Homo sapiens: one gene and its partner. The protein of the gene in region 1 purifies or fractionates together with the protein of each later gene. This does not show direct contact. Each region holds a gene or a part of one and is shown on either strand. Other genes may lie near its edges.

Region 1 (10,381 bases):
AAACTGTTACAAAAAATTTAAATAAATAAATAGCTGCCATAAAATTTCAACATAATATATAGTCAACTAGTTCTGTGTTATGGTCAGTTAATAGAAAGATAGCGGGAATGATGATATGAGCAAAAGTAAACAGAACAAAGAAGAAAAAAGATAGGAAAAAGAAAGTTAGACAGAGAAGAGAAAAATAAAGAAAGTGCTTTATTGAATGAGCTAATTACATGAGGTCACCAAGAGGAACATCCTCTAACTGAGGCGCTGTGATGACAACAACACCCGATGCTGTCATTGTCCTGGTGTCTTCCTCACCCTGGCGTAAAGGAGATGCCCAAGCTCTGCACAGGAAGGCATCGTCGGCAAGCTCTCTTCTCCGACACTCCACCGGAAGGATCACAGAGCTGTGGTCTTGGCCTGGATGGATCGCAGCTCTCTCCACCTGAGGGCCCCCAGCTGGAGGGACCGGAGAACACTGGCGTCTGGCAGCCCCGTTTCCACTCCTACCAAGAAGGCTCAAAGACGACGGTCAGCTCAGGCTTTTCTTCTTGAAGTGTTTCTAACGCACTTTTTGTCTCATAATTGAAATACATTTCAGACAACCTGTAAAAGCAAATAGAAAGCCTGGGTTGCACTCTTCAGATAACTCTGTCAGAGTCGTTAACCTTAAAAGTCTCATCTCTTCATTTCCCTAAACTCCACACACTTCTAAAATGTAAAAAAAAAAAAAAAAAAAAAAGAGGGACCACAACTCCCAGAGTGCTCCGCGTCCTCGCCGCCGTCGCCGCCGCCGAGACCAAGATGGCCGCGAGACTCCGCACCTTCTTCAAGAATGCCTGGGCCAAGGAGCCGGTGCTCGTCGTGTCCTTCGTCACTGGGAGCCTCAGACCCCCAGGACCCCAGCCTGGAGTGGCTGAAGAAACTGTGAGCACCTCCAATGACAGAGGAGGCCCCTCCCACGGCTCCCAATAAAAATGTGGGGAAAAAAAAAAAAAAGCTCTAAGTGCCCAATGTGGTTCCTGTTATATTTTTAACTATCTAGTTGGGAAAATGTTAAGCATACATAAAAGTATAGAAAATAGTATAATGAACCCCCTGTGTCCATTACCCAAGTTCGACAATTAAACAGGTCATGTCAACTTGTTTCTTCTATTGCCCACCCACTCCTCCCACCCATGGATTATTTTAAATACTGCATTTAATGCATCTATCAATAATTCACTTTGTGACACTAAAATATAATTACAATGTCACTATCACACCAAAATCGTTTAACAATAATTTCTTAGTATCACTGTATGTCCAGTCAGCATTTACGCTTCCTCAACTGTCTTGTAAATTTTTTTACCTTATGTTCATTTAGTCACTAACCTGATCAATTCTACACATTGCATTTGCCCAGGATGCCTCTCACATCTTCGATGTAAGTTCTTCCTCCTCTTTAATAAAGTTTCCCTTGCAACTTAACTAATAAATCCACCCATTTGTCCTGCACCATTTATAACCATCTCAATTTGGTGGTGTTATATACTGAATGTTTGTCTTCCTTAACAATTCCCATGATGAAGCCCGAACCCCTAATGTACGGTACTTAAAGGTGAGGCCCTTGGGAAGTAGTTAGAGTTAGATGAAGTTGTGAGGGTGGGGCCCTCAGTATGGGGTGAGTGCCCTTACAGGAGAGATATCAGAGAGTTTGTTCTTTCTCCCCTGTCTTCTCTCCCTTGCCTCCCCTCCCTCCATGCAATCACATAACAAGAAGGTAGCCATCTGCAAATCAGGAAGAGGACTCTCGCCAGCAACCAAATTCATCAGAGACTTGATTTTGGACTTTCTAGCCTCCAGTATTGTGAGATAATAAATCTGTGTTTGAGTCACACAGTCTAAAGCAGCTTGTTATCGCAGCCTGAGAAAACGGGTTGATTGCATTCATGGATTCTTCAATCTATTTTGAGCCTGTCCCTCAGCCTGGGTCCAGAATGTCCCTCAGGGCTAGGTCAGTGATGCTACATGTAGCAGTGTCCCCAGCTTTGACCTGACCAATCCTTTGTTTGTTCCCCCATCTCTCTTAGCTCTGGGAATATTGGCTTGTCCTGCAGCAAATGTGCTCCATTATGTTGGCACAAGGATGCAAGGCTGATTCAAACTTGTATTTATTCAAACCTGCATTCCAACAAGTTCTCAGCCTTGAGATCATTAATATGGACAGAAGTCCCTGGACTAATGGAATTTATATTTTGGGAGCAGAGATAGATAATAAATAAACAAGAAAATGACATAGCACATAAGATGTGCTACACTGCAGAGGAGAATGAGAAGAGAAGAAAAAGTGCTTCTATTTTCAGTAGAATAGTCAAAGACAGCCTCGCAGAGAAGACCTTTAAGCAGAGAATTTAGGAAGGTACAGGGAATAATGCAGGTGGATACTGAAGGGGAGAGAGTTCTAGGCCAGAAGAAAAGCAAGTGCAAAAATCCAGAGATGACAGTGTTCTTGCAAAACAGCAAGGAGATCACTGTACTGGGGCAGAATAAGCAAGGGTTGGGAGAAGCGGAATCTTCGGAAGCAGGAGAGGCTGGATTATGTGGGGCATGGAAGCCACCATGAGTTTGTTGCTCTGATTATGAAAGTGATAAGAAGACGATGTTGACAAGAGTGATATGATGCGAGTTACGTTTTAGCTGAATCCCTTGTCTGCTAAAATCAGAATAACAGATGCAGGGTGACCTGTCAGAATGCCACCATGACAATCCAGACACCAGGTGATGGTGGCTTGAGCCAAGGAAGAAGCCGTGAAGCTGGCCTGAAGTGGTCAGGGAGTGGCCAAGCTGGGAAGGCAGAGCTCACAGGATGTGCTGACACATTGGACATGATTATAAGGAAAAAGAGACAGTGACGACAGAACCAGAAATGTTTTGGCCCGAGCAACTTGGAGGAAGTGACCATCGACTGAAATGGGGAAGAATCAGGTTTCGGGTAGAAGAGAGTAGCAAGGGTGTGGATCTAGATGTGACGTTTGAGAGGTTTATTAAACCTTCAAGAAGAAAGATCAGCCAAGCACGGAGACACAGAATTTATGGACATATAATCTGGAGGCCACAGCACACATATCATGAAGCCAGAAGACCAGATAATTTAAATGAGGGAGAAAGTGTAGGGAAGAAAAATTAGCCCAGCGACTAAGCTCTGAGGATTCAACACATAAGGGTCAGGATGATGAAGAAGAGGCCAGAAAGGAGACTGAGTAGAAGGATCTGATGAAATAGGAGAAAACCCAGGAGAGCATGTTGGCCTTAAAGCCAAGCAGTGAAAACGTCTTCAGGGAAAAGTGCAATCATCACGGCTGACAGAACCGTGGGACTCGCCAGGAAGCTCTTGCTAGAGAGGAGACGACTACCTCAGTAGTATCACAGAGGTGGGCTGGCAATATCCTGACACACTGTCGAATTTCGTGTAATTTCCCATCTTGCTATTCCTGGAGCACTCTTTTCCCATTTAGAAATCCTCAGAAACCGCCAGGCACGGAGGCTCACACCTGTAATCCCAGCACTTGGGGAGGCCGAGGCAGGCAGATCACGAGGTCAGGAGATGGAGACCATCCTGGCTAACACAGTGAAACCCCAACTCTACTAAAAATACAAAAAATTAGCCGGGTGTGGTGGCAGGCGCCTGTGGTCCCAGCTACTTGGGAGGCCGAGGCAGGAGAATGGCGTGAACCCGGGAGGCGGAGCTTGCAGTGAGCCGAGATCATGCCACTGCACTCCAGCCTGGGCGACAGAGCAAGACTCTGTCTCAAGGAAAAAAAAAATAAATCCTCAGAAACAAAACAACAAGATCCCCACTATGTAAAGACCCTTCCAATTTGGATGACCCATAGACGAGTTCTACGAAGTTCGGTTCCTTGTGTAGAACAGAATCCTCCTTGGCCATGATCGCATGAGGGCTTGTGTTTCTTTGGGGAATGTGGGTGAAATCCAGCTTAGCCTTGGTGATTCTAACCATCTCAGTGAAGTGGAATGTGTAGTTTAACCCCATATTCTCTATTTTAAAATATCCACCACAACTGACCCAGGCCCAACCTAATCTTGAGTGGCTGCAAATGAAGCGAGAGCCATCCTGGATTTTGATAACAGTCAACGTTTCCTGAGAACTCAGAGTCCCACCACGGGCATCTCTGCAGAGCACACTCACCCCAGGTTCTGCAGGAGGCAGCTCTGCTGTTTCAGCACTTCACAGAACATCATGACCCCCAGGTCGCCCAGGTCATTGTTGCCCAGGCTCAGCTTTCGCAGGCTCTGGCTGGAGGTCAGAAGTGTGGAAAGATCCCAGCAGCAGTGTGACGTGAGGTTGCAGTTGTCTAATCTGCAAAAAGGGGGTGATTTAAAGAAAATGTCCCCTTAACCATCCCCCTAGCTCCCCAAGATTTTAGCATCTTAGCCTGTCTTGTTTCAGGTGGAAAAAAAAAAAGCACAGGAGCACAGGACTAACTAGCTTCAAGCAGCCTTGTATGCTGGTAATTATTCTTCTCTCTCTTTTTCAAATCCACTGCATTGCACAGATCAAATTAGTAACAGTGGTTTGTTCATTGATTTACCAAATTCTGTGCCTTTCCCTACATTTCCATAAAATGTAAGTGTCATACTGCCCTCCTTGTTTTGTGGTACAGAAAACTGTGATGGTAAGGACTCAAGTTCCTACATCTATATCATCTGGAAGGACTCCTCCCAGTCCCATGATCCTGTAACAAGGCAAACACTAAGAAGACACCTCACTTCTAAGATACAGATTATCTTGTGGCCACTCTGCCTAAACGTCCCTCCACCCTTGGCCACCATGTGTTCTCATTGCTGTAATAAACCAAAGGACTTACTCCAACACCTGAAGCTTGCAGTCGGGGTGCAAGAGTCCCTCACAGAGTAGTTTGATCCCCTTGTCTCCGAGAGTGTTGCCTCGCAGGTAAAGGTGCGTGAGATTCTGATTAGTGCTGAGTACCGAGGACAAAGCTGAACAACAGACTGACGTAAGGCCAGAATTCACCAACCTGTAGAAGGACAGGGAGAAGAGTCCTCAGTACCCAGCTGTTCCCCAACATTGTGCAGCTGCTTTGACTCAGTGCCTCGTCCTCTCTCAGCAGCTGCAGCCTTCAGCTCAGAGAGCAGGAGCCAGCATCTCAGATATGATCTGGGGAGAGCAAGACCTGCTGTCTCTGGCTGTCACAGGAGACACAAATGATGTCTCAGCAGATGCTTTGCTGTATGAGTCCGACAGAAAGAGCCAAGGCAAACTGAGCCAGTTACCCCATACTCCTCCTCCTCCTCACACAGCTTTCCTCCGGCCAGGAGTGCTCCTCAGCACCACTTCTTCCAGAAACACATCCCAGTGGTTATCCTCAACTAATAATCCCCGTAACACTGCAGACACCCACACTGCAGGGGCCTTTTTTTTTTTTTTTAAGAGAGACAGGAAAAAAAAATCCTCCTCATGGGAAGTCGGTGCTGATTTAAACATCAAAGACAACAGGTGAACGTCCATTGTGACCTTCTAAGCTGTAGCTAGGGCTGTGACAGGAACACGGCGGGGCCCTTAGCAATTGCCACCTCCCGCCTTCCTGCGCCCCCAAATGCCCCTTTCACATCTTTCTCGCTGCAGCCCTCAACCACGTTGGAGAGGTGGGAGGATCGCTTGAGTCCAGGAAGTCGAGGCTGCAGTGAGCCATGATTGCGCTGCCACACTCTAGCCTGGGTGACAGAGTGAGACCCTGCCTAAATAAATAAATAAATAAGGCCAGGTGCAGTGGCTTATGCCTGTAATCCCAGCACTTTGGGAGGTCCAGCACTTTGGGAGGGTGGATCACGAGGTCAGGAGTTCAAAACCAGCCTGGCCAACATGGTGAAAGCCCATCTCTACTAAAAATATAAAAATTAGTTAGGGTGGTGGTGGGCACCTGTAATCCCAGCTACTTGGGAGGCTGAGGCAGGAGAATTGCTTGAACCTGGGAGGCAGAGGTTGCAGTGAGCCGAGATTGCCACTGCACTTCAACCTGGGCAACAAAGTGAGACTCTGTCTCAAAAATAAATAAATAAATAGAAAAAGCCAGGCTCTTGCTCAGTCACCCAGGCCAAGTGCACAGCTCACTGCAGTCTTAAACTCCTGGGCTCAGACAATCCACCCACCTTGGCCTCCCAAAGTGCTGGGATTACAGGCATGAGCCACTGTGCCTGACCCAGAGACCAGTCTTATTTGATTATTATATCAACCTGGCAAGGAAGGAGTGCAGCTAAAACTATTACATACATTTTACATATTAGAAATCTAAGGCTTATAAAAATTACATGTTTCTCTCAAGGCCACAGAGCAGGTGTGTGGTGGGGAGGGATCCAGACCTGGACTTTCCACCTTTTAGTCTCATCTTCTCCCCACTGCCCTTTCTGTCCACCTCTCTCTTCCTTCTGCACAGCAAAAGGCCTTTTAGAGCATAAAACCCCAAAAATGCATCAATCTCGATGGAATTAAGAGTTTTGATGTACTATTCTTGAGTCAAATTAAGCCCATTCTATCACCCAGGAAGAGCATAAGAGCTCTAAAATCACTGGTGGCGTAATTCCTAGGAGCACAGATGCTTCTATTCCATGAAGCCAGGAATAGCGCAGGTGATTGCCTCCTTCCTGCCAGAGTCCTTGGCAATGGCATGTTTTTTAAGCTCTTTGGTGTCTACGAGGCAGGAAAAATAGAAATACAGAAAAAGTGTATTCAGACAGTAAAGCATGAACAGATGACCAGCAGGAAAAAGTGATTATCCATCCACTGGTTTCTATCTTCCCAATTAAGGAAGAGTCAAACTGAAAAGACACAGTAAGTAAGACTAATAGGCAAATGAAGCCCAAGAGAGACAGACAAAAACAAAGCAAGTTTTGAGTGGCTTCTACTAAGCTCTCATCCCCGGTAAGAATTCTATCAGAGGGTTGTTGTTAATTAACATGCAGAAGGGATTAGTAGCATTCCTGGCAAAGGCCAGGGACATTCTAGTAGAATGGGGATGGTCTTCAAAGAGGAAAAGAGAAAATATTTTTTAAATTATGTAATTAAAGTTATGCAGGCTTTACCACTATTTCCAAAAAGGAGTAGAATGGATTATTCAACAGATGTTTGGGGAGCACTACACAGTAGTAGTAGAAATTGCAACAGACGGTGCAGTTTTGTTAAGAAAACGTCATATCCAAATTGTGAAAATGCTGGTAACTATTAAGCAACGGTTACACTGAACACATAATAAAATGTTTAAAGAATCAAACAACCATGTCCCACCAACCAATCCTTGGATTAGAGGAATGTGATTGACATCTCGATTTCAACCAATCCACCTAACTGAGCTCTACATTTACCAAGCACGGATATCTTGCCATGTACTGTATTAAGTTAATTGGTTGGGGATTTTTATTTATTAACTACCTGCCTATGTCACAAAACTGTCTCATAATGAAAACTGAATCCCAGTGCTTTGGGAGGCCAAGGTGGGAGGACCACTTGAGGCCAGGAGTTTGAGACCAGCCTGGGCAACATAGCAAGACCCTGTCTCTACATAAAAAATTTTAAACATTTTAAACATTACCCAGGCATGGTAGTACACACCTGTAGTCCTAGCTAGTCAGAAGGCTGAGGCAGGAAGATTGCTTGAGCCCAGGAGAGTTCAAGGCTACAGTGAGCTATGATCCTACCACTGCACTCCAGTCTGAGCCACAGAGCAAAACCCTGTCTTAAAAAAAGAAAAGAAAAGAAAGGAAAATAAGGAAAGGAAAGGGGAAAGGGAAAGGGGGGGGGGAGGGGAAGGGAAGGGAGAAAGAGAAAGAAAGAAAGAGAGAGAGAGAGAAAGAAAGAAAGAAAGAGAAAAAGAAAAAGAGAGAAAGAAAGGAGGAGGAGGAAGAAGGAAGGAAGGAAGGAAGGAATCTGAAGAAGAAGATCAAACATTTTTTGAGTATTTATTGTGTGCTTGACATGGATGACGACTTTAAACAGGGTTATCTCATTGAATGATCACAACCTCAAGATGGGAATGTTAGTTTTATCCCTGCTTTTAAATGGACAAAATGAGGATCACAGTAATTAAAAAATAAGTAGGAGCTTCTTAGATGGATAGTAGAAAGTGGGAAAGTGGGGGTAACCTTCCAGGCAAAAGGAAAAGAGTAGCAAGAATAAGGAAGATTAAAAGAACCACCAAGATGTTTCAAAACTAATTCATAGCTGGGCACAGTGATGTCCACCTATAGTCCCAGCTACTTGGGCGGCTGAGACGGGAGGATTGCTTGAGCCCAGGAGTGCAGATGAGATCAGGCACTCTGGGTGGTATGGCTGTAGATGAACCCAGGAATTCAAATTCAGCCTGAGCATCATAGCAAGTCCCCATCTCTAAAACAGCAAAACAAAACTCATCCAATATGACTCAAAATGGAGTGCAAGGTATGGCAGGAGAGAGGGCAGTATCAGGGACAGCCTTGTGTGCCAAGCTAAGATGTCACTCTGACTGCAGAGAAGAACTTTTGAAGATTTTTGAACAAAGGGTCAATATTTTCAAATTTGCATCTTAAAAAGTTCCCTCTGGTGTAGTGATGAGTGGTAGAGGGAACCGAAAGCAGAGCATTTAGGACCGTCCCCCGTTTACTCACTCAGCAGCCTCCTGGAAAGCCCCACTATTCAATGAGGCAGGAGGAAGAGGGCAGGAGCAGGTCAGAGAACGGGGGTGGAAGGTGGGGTATGATAATTAAACCAATGTTGCAAATGCTCAGCATGTGTGACCCTTGAGCAGTATTGAGACAGGCAGTACACAATATGCAGCCAGAGATGAGGACCCAAAGTTCGAGAGAAAAAAATGTAGCTATACCTAACACATAGGCTATACCTAACACATAGGCTATACCTAACACGTAGGCTATACCTAACCCATAGGCTATACCTAACACACAGGCTATGCCTAACCCATAGGCTATACCTAACACACAGCCACATGTATGGCTGTACCTAACACATAAAATGCATAAAAGTCTCGACTGATTAATGCCACTTATAGATACCTATCTCAAAGCAAATACACATGCATAAAACTATATATACAAATGTGCTTTTTGCAGAGTTGTTTGTAATAGTGGAAAAGAACAGTTATCCCAAAATGCATGATTTGATTAAATAAATTATGGTAAAGCACACTATGGGATATTATGCCCCAATCGATAGATCTACACAAATCAGCATGGAAATTTATCCATGATAAATGAAAAAAGGATATCACAGAAAAATATTTATATTATGGTTCTAGTTTCAATAGATAGGGTGTTATGGATTGAATTGTTTCCTCTAAGACTTTATATGTGGAAGTCCTAGGCCCCAGTACTTCAGATTGTGACCTTATTTGGTGATACGGTTACTGAAAATGTAATTAGTTAAGATCAGGTCGTTACAAATCTAACATGACTTGTGTTCTTTCACAGGGAAACTTGGGACATGGAGAAAGACACACACAGACACAGGGAAGACACCACGTAGAGATAAAGGCAATGGTGTGGCAGAGGCATCTACAGGTCAAGGAATGGCAAAATGTGTCAGCAAGATGACATTCCACCAGAAGCCAAAGAGAAGCATGAACAGATTCCCCACAGCCCTCAGAAGGACCCAGCCTGCTAGCATCTTAATCTCACACTTCTGGCCTCCAGAACTGAGGGACAATAAATTTCTGTTGTTTAAGCTGCTCTGTTTGTGATACTTTATTACAGTAGCTCTAACAGACTAGGCATTTAAAATACTACATAACAATGTATTACAAATGCAACATGAAAATCACATAGGTCTTCATTCACATTACTGATATAAATACCACCCAGATCAGCATATACAGGAAATCCATTTGTCCATAATTAGCAACCAATATATGTTCACAAAGCTCTGATACTCCCTTGGATGGATTGATGGATGGATGGATGGATGGATGGATGGATGGATGGATGGATTGACGGATGGAAAATAGAGGGATGGATGATGGATGGATGGATGGATGGACAGATGAATGGATTATATAACAATCTATTGTATTAAAAAAAGTCTGGATGGTTGTTCATCAGACTATTGTAAATGGCTCTCTCAGAAGAGGGCTGAGAAGGAGCTTTCACTTTCCACTTTGTCTGTACTATGATATGTTTACACCAAGCATGTGTTACTTTTCTAATAAAAAGTTTGTGAATGATATCTGGGTTTGAGACCTACTGTTGTTGAAATTGAGAGGTATATGAGAATTCTCAGGGAGTTTAGAAATATTTAGTAACAACAACAACAAAAAAGGTAAACCAGGCGGGTGTGTGGCTCACGCCTGTAATCCCAACACTTTGGGAGGCCAAGGCAGGCAGATCACCT
Region 2 (11,325 bases), on another chromosome or scaffold:
AGTCAGGTGATGGCGCTCGCAGAAAGTCTACTTCCCATGCTTTTTCTTGGAAAATGTTAAGGATATCTTCAAAGAAAAAGAATCTAAGAAGACACAACGTAAAAAGAGGCACAGAAGTAAACAATGGTGTATGAAATACACAAATTTAAATGCTTACTGACAAATTTTTTTTGTTTTATTTATTTTACTTTTATTTAATTTATTTATTTTTGTTTGTTTGTTATTTTAGAGATGAGGTCTCACTGTGTTACCCAGGCTGGTCTTGAACTGACTTCAAGCAATCCTCAGTGCCTCAGCCTCACAAAGTGCTGGGATTACCAGTGCTAGCCACTGCATCTGGTCACAAATGTTTTTTGAAAAATGTAAACTAGAATGAGATTTTTTAAAATATTGAAAGTGATTCAGGGGAAGATAGTAAAAGCACATTAAAGGTTTCGTTTCTATTTGGGAAAAATTATGGTTATTTTTGACATTGAAAGGTAATTCTAAATACGGGTAACCCTTGCTATCTTCACTTTCACTATGTGAGCTCAGGAACTACATAGATTAACGTACATTTTCACACAGACTCGTGGCATCCAGAGTTTAGAAACCAAATAGGTTGGGATAAAACAGTATTCTTTGCTATTCAAACCTTAGACCCAAATAGATTAAGGTAACAGGTTACTTTTATTTTTTTTTTAATATTTAAAGGAAATAAATAGAATATAGAAACAATACACTTCTTGGCCATTAGAAGGAAATAAAAAAGTTGGAGGGGAAGGAGAGGATTTTTACAAAGTAATCCACTAGGGCCAGGAGTGGTGGCTTACGCCTATAATCCCAGCTACTTGGGAGGCTGAGGCAGTAGGATAATTTGAGCCTGGGAGTTCAGGATGTGCCTAACAACATGGCAAGATGCTGTCTCAAAAACACACACACACTAACAGGAAGACCAGGCCCCAGGTCCCTTTCATCCTCATTCATTCATAATTTAGTCTAAAATCCATTAGGTTTCAGACCAATCATAGGTGTTCATGTTGGGAGGCAACAGTGACCTGGTGGGGGGTGTCAGCAAAGCAGGGTGAGGATAGTGCTTGTGTGTTGTGTAAAGAGGGGAGTGGGGTTGATGTCAGCAGCGACAGGAGATTAGTTATATGCAGAGGGGTTGATCAAATAAGGAAATACATTGAGGACAATGGGAAGTGCCTCTCTGTTGGAGATGGGGTTGTAAATATGTAAAAGGGAGGAAACTAGAATAAATCCTGAAATGTAGGTTTGGAATTGGAATTACTGGCATGAATTCATGGTTCCCAAAATATCAAGATGTATTCAGTATGGTAGTAATACTGAAAAAAAAATGTAGAGAGATATACCTATGGATGTGGATGTATGTATGCATAGAGGACCTGGAAGCAGCAACGCTGTAATAACATGAGTATACCCAGCTCCCAGATCTTGGTTTCTAAATACCATTCTTCACTAAAAGGAACCAGGGCTCGGAGAAACACCTGACTTCAGGATTGGGGCAGGAATGGTACTCTAGAAGATCTTGCTGTGCCAAACAAAGGAAGTGCTCAAAGAACAATAAGGACATGTCAAATGGATACAGAAGACATCTTGAAGGGCTTCCTGCAGGCTAATCTTGAGACCATTTGAACATCTAAAATAAATCATGGCCAGGTGCGGTGGCTCACACCTATAATCCCAGCACTTTAAGAGGGCAAAGTGGTTGAGCTTGAGACCAAGAGCTCAAGACCAGCCGGGGCAACATAGTGAAACCCCCGTCTCTACAACAAAATTTAAAAATAGCTGGGCTTCGTGGCATGTGATGTAGTCCCAACTACTCAGGAGGCTGAGGCAGAAGGATTGCTTGATCCCAAGAAATTGAGGCTGCAGTGAGCCGAGATCATGCCATTGCACTCCAGTGAGCAACAAAGCGAGACCCTGTCTCAAAAAACACACACACAAAAAAACATGAAAATATCAGATGCGCACCCATAAAGGATGAGTTCATGTCCTTTGCAGGGACATGGATGAAGCTGGAAACCATCATTCTCAGCAAACAGAAGAACAGAAAACCAAATACCACATGTTCTCACTCATAAGCAGGAGTTGAACAATGAGAACACATGGACACAGGGAGGAGAACATCACACACCGGGGCCTGTCAGGGAGTGGGGAGCTAGAGGAAGGATAGCATGGGTGCAGCAAACCACCATGGCACACATATACCTATGTAACCTGCACGTTCTGCACATGTATCCCAGAACTTAAAGTATAATTTAAAAATAAATAAATAAAATATCAGATGTAATCCATTGAACAAAACGGGAATTTGTGAGTCCATGCTGATTAAAATAAAAGAATAAATGGAGACAGCCAGGTGCGGTGGCTCACGCCTGTAATCCCAACACTTTGGGAGGCCAAGGTGGATTGCTTCGAGCTCAGGAGTTCAAGACCAGCGTGGGCAACGTGGCAAAACCCTGTCTCTACAAAAATTACAAAAATTATCCAGGCATTGGTGGCGTGCACCTGTAGTCCCAGCTACACAGGAGGCTGAAGCTGGAGAATCGCTTAAGCCTGGGAAGTGGAGGTTGCAGGAAGCTGAGATTGTGCCACTGCACTCCAACCTGGGGGACAGTGAGACCCTGTCACAAAAAAAAAAAAAAGAAATGGAGAAACTTCTCTTTATAGTCGAGTACCAACAGATGAATGTAGTCAGAATAATGATATTAGAAAATCACCACTTGGCAATCACCATAGCAAAAATCCAGCCAAGAAACATCAATTACTAAAACTAATGTATGAAAGTTTGATGAGGAACAGACCATTTACACAGTCTCAAAGTCCTCCCTGCAAAATGCTTCCTGATGATTACAAAAGGAAAAACTACATTGGAGAAACCTGGGAGACCCTACCTCATTCAAGTTATCACAGTTAATCACAGTTCACATAACCAGTGCTGGGACAAATCAAAATTGTATAACATTTAATACAATGCAATAAGAATATAGCTTCACTTCTGTGATATTCTTCATAAAAATGCATAATGTGAATCTAATGAGGAAACATCAGAGAACATAGTTCCCCTAATGTTCTTTTATGGCAATTTTTTTTTTCTGATCTGGGATTCAGTCCGGATAGATGTAGCTCCTGAATAGAAATTAAGGGATATTCTTCACAATAATTGGTCAGTAATCTTCAAAAGTCAAGTTCATGAAAATCAAGGAAATACATAGAACCGTTTCAGGTTGAAGGAGCCTAAAAGGGACATGAAAACTAAATGCAATGTGAGATCCCAGCTAAACTATATCTGGTTTTCCTTTTTGAGTTTTGTTTTGTTTTGTTTTGAGACAGTCTTGTTCTATTGCCCAGGCTAGAGGGCAGTGGCATGATCTTGACTCACTGCAATTTCCGCCTCCCAGGTTCAAGGGATTCTCGTGCCTCAGATTCCAGAGTAGCTAGGATTACAGGCCCGTGCCACCATGCCCAGCTATTCTTTTTGTATTTTTAGTAGAGACAGGGTTTCGCCATGTTGGCCAGGCTGGTCTCTAACTCCTGGCCTCAAGTGATCTACCCGCCTCAGCCTCCCAAAACGCTGGGATTGCAAGTGTAAGCCACCACTCCTGGCTTTTGGGGTTCTTTTTGAGACAGGGTCTCTGTCACCCAGGCTGGAGTGCAATGGCACAATCACAGCTCACTGCAAGCATGACGTCCTGGGCTCAAGTGATCCTTCCACCTTGGCTTCCTGAGTAGCTGGAACTACAGTCATACACCACCATGCCCGGCTAATTATTATTATTATTTTTTTTGGTAGACGGAGGGTGGAGAGTGGGGTGGGGGGGAATGGGGGTGGGGGTGGGGGATATTCTCACTGTGTTGCCCAAACTGGTCTTGAATTCCTGGACTCAAGCGATTCTCCTACCTCGGCCTCCCCAAGTGCTGGGATTACAGGCATGAGCCACCACACCCAGCCCCATGTCTGGTTTTAAACTAAGCTTAGTAGTTTGTTATAGAGCACAGAATATTAACACATAGATAATCTAACTCATGAACATAGATACAAAACCCTTGAACAAAAAGATTAACAACTAGAACCCAACAATTCACGAAAATAATAACTACAGCTCAAACAAAATATACCTGAGGAATAGAAGATTAATATGTGACCATCATTGATAATGAACAACAATAACAGAATAAGAAAGAAAATCTCATGATTACCTCAATAAATACAGAGAAATCTGGTCATACTCACTATCCATTCATGATTACAACTCTTCAATACTATGTCTGCAAACATCATACTTAATGGTGAATTATCCAAAGCTTTCTCTCTGAGTTAAGCAATTAGCTATCTCCACTTCTATTCACTATTTTACTATGTTCACAATTTTTCACTATTTTCACTATTTTACTGGCAGTCCTCACTAGTAAAGAAGAAGTAAGACTCAGAAAAAAATTAAACTGATTTTGTTGCAGACAACTTGAATGTGTTTATAAAAAATCCAAAGAACCTATGTAAAAATTAGACTTAAGTAAGTCAAGTTAGGCCATACTCAGGGGCTCACATCTGTAATCCTAGCACTTTGGGAGGGTGAGGTGGGAGGATTGCTTGAGCCCATGAGTTCGAGACCAGCCTGGGCAACATAGCGAGACCCTGTCTCTATTTAAATAAAAATTAAAAAATTAAAGAGTAAGTCAGGTTAGAAAGGTTCCTGGATAGACAACCAACATATGACAAATAATTGTATTTTTACCTACCAGCATCAAACACAAAATGAAACTTTTAAAAGACCCTATTGATTAGGAGAAAATGAAGGACTTGGGAGAGCCTCACTGACAAATAGAGCAAGTTTACAGGATTTAAGTCCTGCAGAACCACCACTGAGGTGACTTGGAGAGATACCTCTGTAAATACATCGCAAATATCAAATACCTGCAAGAGAGGACAGCTCTACTTGCCAGGATTCCTTATCCAGGTGTCAAAGAATGAATATTCTAAATATCTTCGTGTAGCCTGAGCATATATGTGGGTTTTTTTTAACCATTTAGACATAAGTTGGGGTGCATACTATGGATTCCTCAACACCTTGCTTTTTTTGACTTACCAGTCATATATCTGGAGAGAAATCCATTTTAGCAAAAAATATGTGTAATATATTCTTTCTTTTTAATTTTTTTTTTCTTTTTTTGAGACCGAGTCTTCGCTTTGTTGCCCAGGCTGGAGTGCAGTGGCGCGATCTCGGCTCACGGCAAGCTCCGCCTCCCGGGTTCACGTCATTCTTCTGCCTCAGTTTCCCGAGTAGCTGGGACTACAGGCGCCCGCCACCACGCCCAGTTAATTGTATTTTTAGTAGAGATGGGGTTTCACCGTGTTAGCCAGGATGGTCTCTGTCTCCTGACCTCGTGATCCTCCCGCCTCAGCCTCCCAAAGTGCTGGGATTACAGGCGTGAGCCGATGCGCCCGGCCTCTTTTTAATTTTTTAAACTTGCAGAAGAGTTGCAAGAATAGTGCTCTTTAGTGGGCCTTCACTCGGAATCACCAACTGCTGGCGTGTGGGTGCACTGGCTTTATAGTATGTGCTTTATCAGTCCCCTTCCTTCCTGTCCTCCTGTCCCTGTGTGCTTCCTGAACCGTTTGAAAATAGGTTGCATATATCATGCCCCTGTGCCCCGAAAAACTTCAGTGTGTATTTTCTAAGAACAAGGGCATCCCCTTGCATAAACACAGTACAATCTTATCAAATTCAGAAGATTCAACATTAATAGAAAAAACTATCTGCATATTATCCATATTCAAATTTCATCAATCGTTCCCATAATGTTCTTTTATGGCAATTTTTTTTTTCTGATCCGGTATTCAGTCCGGATAGATCTAGCTCCTGAATAGAAGTGGAAATCCTCGCTCCCCGGGGTGAGGAAATTCCCTCAGGGCTCCTAGGTGTGGTGTAGTCGCTGGGAAGGGGGAATGAGTGCCCAGAGCAGGCAGGGTTGCCGTAGTGTCCACTAACTCAGTGGCGGTAAATTTTTGTGCACATGTTAAGTGTGTGTGTGTGTATGTGTAATATATATATACACAAGAGAAACTGAGTGATGGAAGAAGGAAGAGAGGTTATATGTGTAGTTCATTCTCTGGAGCCTAATCTTTCTAAAACATTTCAGACAACCCAGTAACAGTGTCTCATGGCAACATGATAGAATCTTGAAGGTGAATGGAAAGGATTATGATGTACGGAAAATCCAAGTTGGAGTGGTGCCTGATACAGGTGAAAATCAGTTCGCAGCTACTGGAAGAGAGAGGAGCATATCAATTGTTTAAAACAAAAAGCCAGCGTTAACAGGCTCAGAGAAATGAAGTTGAAAGGAATAGATGTAGCTCCTGAATAGAAGCAAAAGTCCAACGTGGTTCCATTAAAATGACTTCTCAGCCGTCTCTCCCTGCAGATGACTTCGATATCTACCACGTCCTGTGAGCCTTGATCTACTACAGCTTTCTAGATTAGCCCAGTGGTGGGAAAGTCAAGCTCAGAGGAGTCAGGGGACACACACTGCATTCAGGAGGGTTCTCCCAGGTGTGACCCATGGAAGGTCCCCGGAAAGGAAGGAAGATTGTACCTAATATCTTGGCAATAAATACATGTCCTTCCTAAAGGGTGACAGTCTAGGACCTCCTGTGGTATCAGTGAGTAAAAGTGAAAATGACCATGCTTATAACAGTGAACACTTTTCAAACTGGCATAACTGTACTTAAAAGTATGTATGAGGTAAGGTCACTGTCTCATGGAGCCCCAACTTTAGATACAATATATGGAAAGAAAAATCCGAGAGGACATAGATACCAGGCTGCCTGGCACAATACAAAAAATTGTAAGAGGAAGCTCTGTGCAGGGAGAGGAGGTCCCGTTTGGAACCCTCAGTGTTCTCTCTGTGCAGGCAGGTCTGGGCAATTCACATGAACACTCTAATCCTGTAGCTTACTGGGAAGGACATCCTAGATCAATCACTTAAAAAAATTTTTCAGTTGTCATTTAGACGAACCTGTGTCAAGTAGCTTGCATGATACCTGCATAATCCTCACAACCATCCTATCAGGCAGATGATATTATTCCTATTTTATAGATGAGAAACGGACATAGAATCCCAGATCCTATAATTAATAAACGGCATAGTTGGGATTTAAACTAAGATCTATATTTTTACAAAGTCTGTGCTCTTTCTCCTCTCCGTGTATATGTGTGTGTGTGTGTTTATATGTATATAGCTATATACATACACATATACACATATGTGTGCTCTTAAGATATATATATTCATGCTCTTAATGTGCATATATTATGCCTTCAATATATATGCCATACATACATATATATACAAATATATACATATATATCACATATATAGAGACAATCTTAATATATATAGACAATCTTAATATATGTAAATCCAAATATCTTAATGGATAGGTATGTTGGGAGAGAGGGAGGGAGGTAAACAGATAGGTGGATATTCCTTTTTTTACATACCACCACACACCCCATGAGTAAATGACTACATCATTTAAACCTGACATCTCATCTGTAAAATGGGATGTAAAAATAATCGTTCCTGCCTTACACAATTGTTGAAAGATTTAATGGGAAAATGCATGTTAAGTACTTAAATAGTGCCAGGCTCACTACCTGATAGCTATTGTTTTATTAACTATTAATAATAATAATAATAATTTAATTACTTGCCCAGCAAGTTGTCAGTTGTCTTGCTTTAGTTTTAGAAGGAAATTTTTATCTGTCTTATTTGGCTTCAGGTACTTGTTCACAGTTCTGGTCTAAGTTATGTAATTTTGTTTTTAATTTAATTTATTTATGTAATAGAGACAAGATCTCACTATGTTACCCTGGCTGGTCTCAAACTCCTGGCCTCAAGCAATCCTCCCACCTCGGCCTCCCAAAGGGCTGGGATTACAGGTGTGAGCCACTATGCTCTGCCATAATACAATTTTAGACTCCAAGTTCCAATACTTCCTGTCCTTGGTAGGGAATGTGTTTGGAGGAAGTCTTATTAAGAACTCTTCTTTATTTCATAATATTAAGAGAAGCTTATTGTCATTTGTACATATTTTGTTCTCTCAAAACCCTTTCTTCCCATGTGGCACCAACACAGTGCAGAGTGCACAGATTACTATGATACCCTTCCAGTTAAGGAGGCTGATGGGAACCAGCCCCATTTTCAGGGTGTCACTGGCTTGTGGAACTTGGGCAACACATGCTGCGTGAATGCCATCTCACAGTGTCTCTGCAGCATCTTGCCGCTGGTGGAATACTTTCTCACCGGGAAGTATATCACCGCTCTGCAAAAGTAAGACCATTTGCATTCCCTGCAGCCCAGCCCCCACCCCCACTTCCCCACAGATGAGGTTAGAGAAGGAACTCTGGAATCCCTATTAAGAGATAAACAAACAAGTCAGTAGAGGTTGTAGCTTCCCAGATAACACGCTAGAGTAAGTAAAAGTGGGAAGGGCAACCAAGAAATGAATGCAGCTCCTTTTTTTTTTATTTTTTATTTTTTTTTATTGTTGTTGTTGAGCCAGGGTCTCGTTCTGTTGCCCAGGCTGGAGTGCAGTGGTGCGATCTTGGCTCCCTGCAACCTCTGTTCCTCGGGTTCAAGTGACCCTCCTGCCTCAGCCTCCTGAGTAGCTGGGATTACAGGCACGCGCCACCATGCCTGGCTAATTTTTTTTGTATTTTTGTAATTTTTTGTATTTTTAGTAGAGACGGGGTTTCACCATGTTGGCCAGGCTGGTCTTGAGCTCCTGGCCTCAAGTGATCCACCCCTCCCAACCTACCACCTCGGCCCCCCAAAGTGCTGGCATTACAGGTGTGAGCCACTGAGCCTGGCATCCTTTTTTTTCTTTTAGACAGTCTTGTTCTGTCACCCAAGCTGGGGTGAAGTAGTGGTATGATCACAGCTCACTGCAGCCTCGACCTTCTGGGGGCTCAAGCTATCCTCCTGCATTGGCCTCCCAAAGTGCTGGGGTTACAGGCATGAGACACCACGTTCTTCCATTTTGAGACTAATTTCCTAGGCTTGGGTGATTAGGTGCCTTCTTTTCATTAAATCAGCCAGAAACATATCCCTTTCTTCTTCCAAGCGATTGCAGTGAAGTTGCCACTGCTTTTGCCTATCTGATGACAGACATGTGGCTGGGAGACTCAGACTGTGTCTCACCAGAAATATTCTGGTCAGCTCTTGGCAACCTCTACCCAGCATTTACGAAAAAGATGCAACAAGATGCTCAGGAATTCTTGATTTGTGTCCTAAATGAACTTCATGAAGCTCTAAAAAAGGTAAGTAGAGTTAATGACCTTGAAATAGGATAGTCCTGAACCTTTATCAGCAGCTTCCATTTTTCATTCTTTTACTTGTTCAATTAATATTGTCTACTTTGTGCCAAGCACTGTGCTAGGTGTCCCATGGAGAACATCCAAGTTAGTATTTGAATGTGTAGCTGTATTTACCAAACTTACTTGTCATCAGAATCATCTGGGAAGATTTTACAACACAGATTTTAAGGCAAATACTCCAAGGGTAATTAATTAGAATGTCTTTTGGGAAAGCTTACTTGGCATTTCCAGTGGTCAGCTAGGCTTTGGAAACACTAATCTACTTTTCTTTGTAAATAGAGGCTGAATGGACTAGTTTTTAAAAGTGCAAAATATATTCCTCATGAGAAATAACATATAGAACTTTATAGCTTAAATTTTCTTGGGACCTACAAATCCATGAAAATATTAAGCTTGATATTAGATTAAGCAACAGATCTACGCACTACAAAGTTTCATCCTCATACCAAACATACCTAACCTGAGTTCATCACCGAATTAGGACATACATTTCATTAAACATGAAATCATCAGTTACTCTAGAGGTTTTGCCTTTATTTACAAAACTCACTGCCCTTAGCCTTGGTCTGAGACCCACATTCTCTGAAAATGTGTCCTTGACTTTATGCAACATCCTTCTGCTAACATTACCTCACTGCACCTCTAATACCCAGGGAATGGTTAGCATAAAGGTTGCAAACTATAGCTATTAATTGTTCTCATTGGCAGATCTCAGTTCCATTTTTCATTTAGAGTAATAAAAAAGTACTCATGGCCAGGCGCTGTGGTTCGCGTCTGTAATCCTAGCACTTTAGGAGGCTGAGGTGGGTGGATCACTTGAGGTCAGGAGTTCAAGACCATCCTGGCTAACACGGTGAAACCCCGTCTCTACTAAAAATACAAAAATCAGCCAGGCGTGGTGGCAGGAGCCTGCAGTCCCAGCTACTCGGGTGGCTGAGGCACAAGAATCGCTTAAACTCAGGAGGCGGAGGTTGCAGTGAGCCGAGATCATGCCACTGCACTCCAGCCTGGACGACAGAGCAAGACTCCGTCTCCAAGAAAAAAAAAAAAAAAAAAAAATGAAAAGGAAAAAAAAAAACAAAAACATATTCATGGCAGCACTTTTTTAAGAAAAGAGGTGAGTGGGCAGTAAAAATCACTTATGTCCTCTTCTACAGCCAATCTGAAACAAACAGCATTCTGTTTCCCAAGATCAAAGTAGGAATTAGGGGAATTAAGTTACTGTCAGGGTGGAAGACTTTGGCAGCAGAGTGTGATGAAAGGAGCAAGCAAAAATGGAATGCTGAGCACAGCCCCAAATTAGAGCCAGCTGTGGAGCTAACACATCTTCAAAATGTATATTCCACTGAGGCTCTTAAATCACTGAAAATTCAGGGTGTGCCCCAGAAATGCTGTTGCTGAGTATGAGCTGGATCCAAACCAGGCCACAAGGCTAGTTCCACCAGGCTGCCTTAGAAATTTAAGATTTGCTCTCTTATCTTTTTTTTTTTTTTTTAATTAACCTTGTAGAGACAGGATTTTGTTATGTTTCCCAATCTGATCTCAAACTCCTCCCGCCTCAGCCTCCCAAAGCACGACGATTACAGATGTTAGCCACCATGCCTGGCCAAGATTTGCTCTTTTAAAAAAGTGTTTTCTAGAAGTTAAAGGAGTAAAGGCTGCAGAATGTAACCTGAAGGGACTGGAGACAGGAAAGATTGGATTTCTTAATATTTTACCTTTAGATCTGCTTGAGTGAACTAATGCTAATTTAGCTTACTTACCCCCTTCCAGAAAAAACTAGCTCCCAAGGCTGGTAGCTTATGGGGCCATGGGTATATGTTTTACCAGAGTTAGACTGTCATCATTCCTCTGTTTCATCTAACGGGAAAATATCTGAATTATCAGAAATCACACATGATATATATACTTTCAAGGATATCTTACTCTATTGTCTGAA

The links.
Region 2: the proteins of NLRP3 (region 1) and USP50 purify together in Homo sapiens (affinity purification with western blotting; 3 studies listed by BioGRID). This does not show direct contact.

The regions. Positions count from the first base shown.
Region 1 is NC_000001.11:247,438,618-247,448,998, reverse strand, and holds the end of NLRP3 (NACHT, LRR and PYD domains-containing protein 3), read right to left. Parts: intron 9,719-10,381; exon of another isoform or gene 9,466-9,718; intron 5,028-9,465; coding exon 4,857-5,027; intron 4,349-4,856; coding exon 4,178-4,348; intron 916-4,177; exon of another isoform or gene 772-915; intron 595-771; coding exon 495-594; 3' UTR 182-494; downstream 1-181. UniProt on the Homo sapiens protein: Sensor component of the NLRP3 inflammasome, which mediates inflammasome activation in response to defects in membrane integrity, leading to secretion of inflammatory cytokines IL1B and IL18 and pyroptosis.
Region 2 is NC_000015.10:50,541,602-50,552,926, reverse strand, and holds the start of USP50 (ubiquitin carboxyl-terminal hydrolase 50), read left to right. Parts: upstream 1-6,260; 5' UTR 6,261-6,401; coding exon 6,402-6,454; intron 6,455-7,912; exon of another isoform or gene 7,913-8,128; coding exon of another isoform or gene 8,129-8,145; coding exon 8,146-8,340; intron 8,341-9,133; coding exon 9,134-9,329; intron 9,330-11,325. UniProt on the Homo sapiens protein: Deubiquitinating enzyme that removes conjugated ubiquitin from specific proteins to regulate different cellular processes. Regulates the inflammasome signaling pathway by deubiquitinating 'Lys-63'-linked polyubiquitination of the PYCARD/ASC adapter protein.